2 separate regions of the Homo sapiens genome follow, and region 2 is linked to region 1. Evidence: fine-mapped expression QTL. A gene starts in region 1. The other region holds a variant in brackets. All regions are shown on one strand. Distances are from middle to middle. Region 1 holds the start of ATN1 (atrophin 1). Region 2 overlaps C1RL (complement C1r subcomponent like).

Region 1 (3,015 bases):
TCAATTCTCCATTTCCATCCTCCCAGAACCCCTTTCTTCCCAACTCCCCCTTCTGTGTTCCTGTTTTCCTCCTCACTAGTTTTGGGATAACCCACACTACTGGGCCCCAGTGCCCTCTCCAAGAAATAACTATGTCTGGGATAGGGAAAACAGGGTCAGAGGTGACCTGCAGTAGGGGAATGAAAACCGTCACAAAGACATGGCCTTCCCTCTTCCACGCTGGAAAACCTCCGGCTCTTCTCAAAAATGGACCTCTCTTTGCCCAAGCCTCCGTCTCCCCCAGGTTCATCAGCCACAATCCCTCTTTCCACCTACCACACCCCTTTCCCGTTTCCCACTTCCCGTCTATTCCTAAAGCCCCCAACCCCAGGCTCCGGAACCCGTGTTCTGGTCCTTTGGAGCTTTTTCCTGGAGGCTTCATGCCCCACCTCGCTGCCATCTCTCCTATCCATTCTGCCTTCGCCCGGAACCCCACTCACAGCATCCCCCGTTTTCCTCCGCCAACCCCGGCCTCGATGTTCCTCCTCTTTTGAGTCTGCGGGTCCCGGATACCCTCTGGCCCCACAGGCCTCCTCCGGAGACCCTCCCTCCTTCCCCACCTTCCCGATCCTCCCGAAACCCTGGCCCCCGACTCTCCTCGGCGGGCCCCACCCCCTGAGCCCCCGGCCCTCAGGCCAGGCAGAGCCCGCAGTGGGGGGACGGGATTGGGAAAATAACAAATGGAGGCGGCGGCGGCAGGAGGGGGAACTGGGAGGGGTGGGGGTGGGGAGCCGCAGGCCGGAGCCCGGGCGGGACAGAACCCCGCGGGCCCGGGGCCCAGGCGGCCGCAGACCTTACCTGCTGGTAGCTCGGGACGGCTGGCTGGCTCCGAGCGGGATTCCGGGCTCCGGCGCCTCTGGGGGGCGGCGGCGGCAGCTCCCCCGCCCCCCTCTCCTCTTCTCGGCCTCAGTCGCCGCCGCGACGACGGCGGCGGCGGCCCCGACCCCCCCGGAGGGCGGCCCCCATCCCCCCTTTTCCCCGCCTGGCCCCAATCGCCCGCCGGCCCCCGGAGCAAACCCCGATCCCCGCTCTGCTCCCCACCTCCCCGGGCTCGCCGCCTCCCCCTGGCCGCCCGGAATGCCCCGGGCCGCGCCGCCCGCCCCCGCCGCGCCGCCCGGCCCCGCGGCCCGCCCGGCCCTCGGCGCGGTTCCGACCCGCCGCCGCCCGCGCCCGCCTAGCGCAGCCCGCACCCGCGCGATCCCGGGCCCCTCGGCCGCCTCGCCCGCGGCCCCCGCCCCTTCCCCGGCAGTCGGCTCCCTCTCCCCCCTCCTAGCCCCTCCCCGAAGCCGCGGTCCCTCCGAAATGGCCCGGCCCGAGGCCCCGACCCGGCGCGGGGCTGCGGACGGGCTGGGCGGTGCGTCCGGCGACTCGCACAGGAAAGCGGACGGCGAAGGGAGGGAGCCTGGGAGAGGGGGATGGGAGAAGGGAGGAAGAGGGAGAAGGAGGGAGCGCGGAGGAACGGAGGAGAGAGGGGCCAGGAGGGAGACGCGAGGGAGGGAGCGCGAGGCAAGCCGCGAGGGGGGAGAGAGGGGGAGCCGGAGAGGGGGAGGCGCAGCGCGAGTTGGCCGAGGCCGAGGCCGAGGGGGCCGGGGCGCGGGGAGGGCTAGCCGTGGCGGAATGTGGGGAGCCCGCGGGCCCGGCGCGGGAGAGGGCTAGGTAGGAGGGGCTGTGGGTGGTGAGGGCAGATGAGGGGAGGCTGAAGTTTGGGGGCGAGCGGGTCTGTGGCAGAGGTGAAGTGGGAGGAGTTTGGGGGATCCTGGGGTAGAGATTGGGATAATGGGATTGGATTGGAAAGATGGAGCTGCCTGGGGGCTTTGTGGGTGCCTGGTGAGAAGTGAGAGAAGCTTGGGGTGAGGGATCTGTGGCAGAGATGGAGCCAGACGGGTTTGGGGGCTATTATCAGAGAGAATGGGATGGAAGTTTGGGGTCATAAGGAGAGAGAAAAATTGAAAAGATGACATATATAGAAAGATGGGGCTTCTGGAAAAAGTAAAGCTTTTGGGGGTGATTAGTGTTGACAAAAGAGTCATAAATATAAGAATTGGGGGTGGGGGGATGAAGGAATGCTGGAGAGAGAGAAGTCCAGAGGAAACGTCAGTGAGGAGAGAGAGGAGGGAACGCGTGAGGAACCTTAAGAAGGGATGAACGAGGTGGGCCCAGGTGCCAATTCTAGGGAAAATAGGTTCTGGGTGAGAAAGGAGGGCTCTGGATGGGAAAGAAGGGTGGGAGACACCGGGCTGGCTGGATCCTGGGGGTGGGGGCTCCCAGTAGAGCCGAGGAGGGTTTACTTGGGCGGGCAGAATGGGGAAGAGGGGGATAAGAAGATTGGAAGGAAATGTAAGCTGAACAAGGCCTATGGCTGGCGGCAGTATGGAAGAGGAAAGATCATGGATGGGAAAAGAAAATGGAGATGGGGCCGGTGCGGGGGCTCACGCCTGTAATCTCAGCACTTTCGGAGGCTGAGTCGGGTGGGTCACTTGTCAGGAGTTCAAGACCAGCCTGGCCAACATGGCGAAACCCCGTCTCTACTAAAAATACAAAAATTAGCCGGGTGTGGTGGCGCATGCCTGTAATCCCAGCTACTCAGAGGCTGAGGCAGGAGAATCCTTGAACCTGGGAGGCAAAGGTTTCAGCAAGCAGAGATCGCGCCACTGCACTCCAGCCTGGGAGACAGAGCGAGACGCCGTCTCAAAAAAAAAAAGAAAAAATGGAGATGGGAAACGAGGGCAGTTAAAGGAAATGACAGATGTGGGAGCGGGGGGAGGTTGCTGGCAAGCTCATGGGTAGATAGGTAAGGGATACAGCTTGGAGGAGTGAGACACCATCCTCAGGCCTTCCATCTAGTGGCATCTCCATTTTCCTTCTCAAATCTGTTGAAAGTCATCACTAAAGATCCCCTGGGTCACAGGGAAGCAGTCGGGTGAAGACTGGGCTTAATGTGGACCCAAATCCCTGGGTATCCTTGTTGCTCAATCC
Region 2 (2,531 bases), 170 kb before region 1:
CTGGAGTGAGGACTGAACACTGGGGTAGGGGTTGGGGGTGGGGGGTTGGGGGAGGCAGGGAAATCCTATTCACATCACTGTTGCACCAAGCCACTGCAAGAGAAACCCCCACCCGGCAAGCCCGCCCCATCCCAGACAGGAAGCAGAGTCCCACAGACCGCTCCTCCTCACCCTCTACCTCCCTGTGCTCATGCACTAGGCCCCGGGAAGCCTGTACATCTCAACAACTTTCGCCTTGAATGTCCTTAGAACCGCCTTCCCCTACTTCATCTGTTGACACAGCTTTTATACTCACCTGTGGAAGAGTCAGCTACTCACCCGCTATTAGAGTATGGAGGAAGGGGTTTTCATTGCATTGCATTTCTGAAACATTCCTAAGACCCTTTAGTTGACCTTCAAATATTCAAGCTATTCTGCAGCTCCAAGATGCAATTATAGAAACAGCTCCTTTTTTATTTTATGTCCTCTATATGCCAGGTGCTTCACCTGTTATTTCACTTAATCCTCATACCATATTTGCAAAGGATGTGTTATTATCTATGTGTGACAAATGAGGAAACTGAGGCTCAGGGGATAAAGGGACTTGCCCAAGTCCCACAGCTGGTGTGTGACTGCAGAGACTGTGCTCTTCCCAGTGTGCTGCAATACTTCTCAACCCTCCTCTAACCTGCTGTGTCACCCGCTTTCCCTCCCAGCCCCCACATCCTTACCATTTTCCCTCCCTGGGAATTCCTGCTTCTGCGAAAATGGTATCCTCTAGCTCACACTTTCCTAATGGCCCCATCTCCTGCAGAAGCCAGGTGAGCCCAGCACTGGACTGAAGTTCTTGCAGACACCCCACCTGTGCCCCTATCATCAGGGGAACTGCTCCACCTGAGAGGACCAACTCTTTAATTTTTAGTAAAACCTGGAGGTGATGGGCCGGGCGCAGTGGCTCACGCCTGTAATCCCAACACCTTAGGAGTCCGAGGTGGGTGGATCACGAGGTCAGGAGATCCAGCCCATCCTGGCCAACATGGTGAAACCCCATCTCTACTAAAAATACAAAAATTAGCCGGGCGTGGTGACACGTGCCTGTAGTCCCAGCTACTCGGGAGGCTGAGGCAGGAGAATCACTTGAACCTGGGAGGCGGAGGTTGCAGTGAGCTAAGATCACGCCACTGCACTCCAGCCTGCGGACAGACCAAGACTTCATCCCCCCC[A/C]AAAAAAAAAGATTGGAGGTGATTTACAGTGAAAGACACAAATAAAATACAACTGTTCAATGGAAATAGAAAATAAACACCATAAAAGAGAGAAGAGAGGTAATTTGTTAGCATCAAGAGTCAAGTTGCTATATGGTCAAAGGTTAAATTTATCTCTAAAAAATGGCAGGATTCAAAGTTGTACATACATGTGATTACTTCTGTTTTTTACACCCACATACAGTACAAAAGATTATTAAAAATATTCCCAAAAGGCAGGTGCAATGATGCACACTTATACCCCCAGCCACTCAGGAGGCTGATGCAAGAGGATCGCTTGAGCCCAGGAGTTGAAGTCCAGCCTAAGCAACATAGTGAAACCCCATCGCCAAAAATATAATAATAATTCTCTCAAAATACTAAACAGAGGTGGTTTTATTGATAAGATTTTGGCTGTTTGGTTTTCCACTATTCTCTATTGGCTAAAATTTGTTTAATGAGCATGAAATGTTTTTATTTTATTTTGCTTATTTTTATGATTGCAAAAAATGATATGAGTTTCTCCCTGCCAAGGCAAAAAAATATATATATACCTATATTTATATGTGTATGTCTAGATCTATATCTCTACATCTCCATCGCTGTCTCTGTCTAGAGATAGAGATATCGACAATGAGAGAGAGAGGGAGGTAAGAGATAGAGATGATGGAGATAGATGAGCTAGCGATAGAGACATATCCACAGAGGAAAACCTACCACTACTTTAAGAGAGAAATCTTTTTCCCAAGAATCAAATCCTTAAAGGAACAAACACTGTAACCGACTATATCCTCAATAATTGTTTTAAAACAAACGCAGCAGCATTTCATATGGCATTTTTTTCCTTCTTGGTATGAGTCAAGGACAAAACAAAGTCAAGGACATAACAAAAATGTGTGAGTAAAGGTTATTTTGAATGGTTGGGCAGAGTGGAGACAGGGCTGGGACTGAGCTAATGACATCCAGGTTTGCCGCTCTCCAAGCGTGTTGCACAATGCCAACGCAGAACTGAGAATCCCTAGGATGGACGGAAGAGCTTCAGCTAAGACTTACCTCCTTACCTGTTCCCTCTGCCTCCATTATGAACATACGGCACATGCGCGCGTGCACACACACACACACACACAAACTGCTGCTAGGATATTAATGTGCAGTTTGTTAGACGAGATTCCCCTTCCTTCTCGTCCTCTGATCTGGTGCTTTTCCTTCTCCCCCATCTTTTGTCTTTCCTGATCTAACAAGGCTGTGGATCATATGCTGATCCCATCACAGACCAGCCCTCCGTTAGGTTCAGTCCTCAGCTCTGACACA

Evidence for each region. PIP is the estimated chance that this variant, and not a neighbour inherited with it, causes the effect.
Region 2: its variant is the best candidate, but not a certain one, in a credible set for the expression of ATN1 in whole blood (TOPMed, PIP 0.85).

The regions. Positions count from the first base shown.
Region 1 is chr12:6,926,207-6,929,221 of GRCh38, reverse strand. ATN1 (atrophin 1) reads right to left here and starts at 1,263. Exons shown (of 10, transcript NM_001940.4): 1 at 838-1,263. It overlaps LOC124902868 (a long non-coding RNA gene), which reads left to right and starts at 1,526. Exons shown (of 2, transcript XR_007063194.1): 1 at 1,526-1,695. RefSeq lists silencers at 1,265-1,424, 1,605-1,654 and an enhancer at 2,679-3,015.
Region 2 is chr12:7,093,802-7,096,332 of GRCh38, reverse strand. C1RL (complement C1r subcomponent like) reads left to right here. Exons shown (of 6, transcript NM_016546.4): 6 at 1-1,779. Among named protein-coding and RNA genes, the nearest start is that of C1R, 2.6 kb to the right of the region's middle. The variant A/C (reference allele first, on the strand shown) is at 1,203.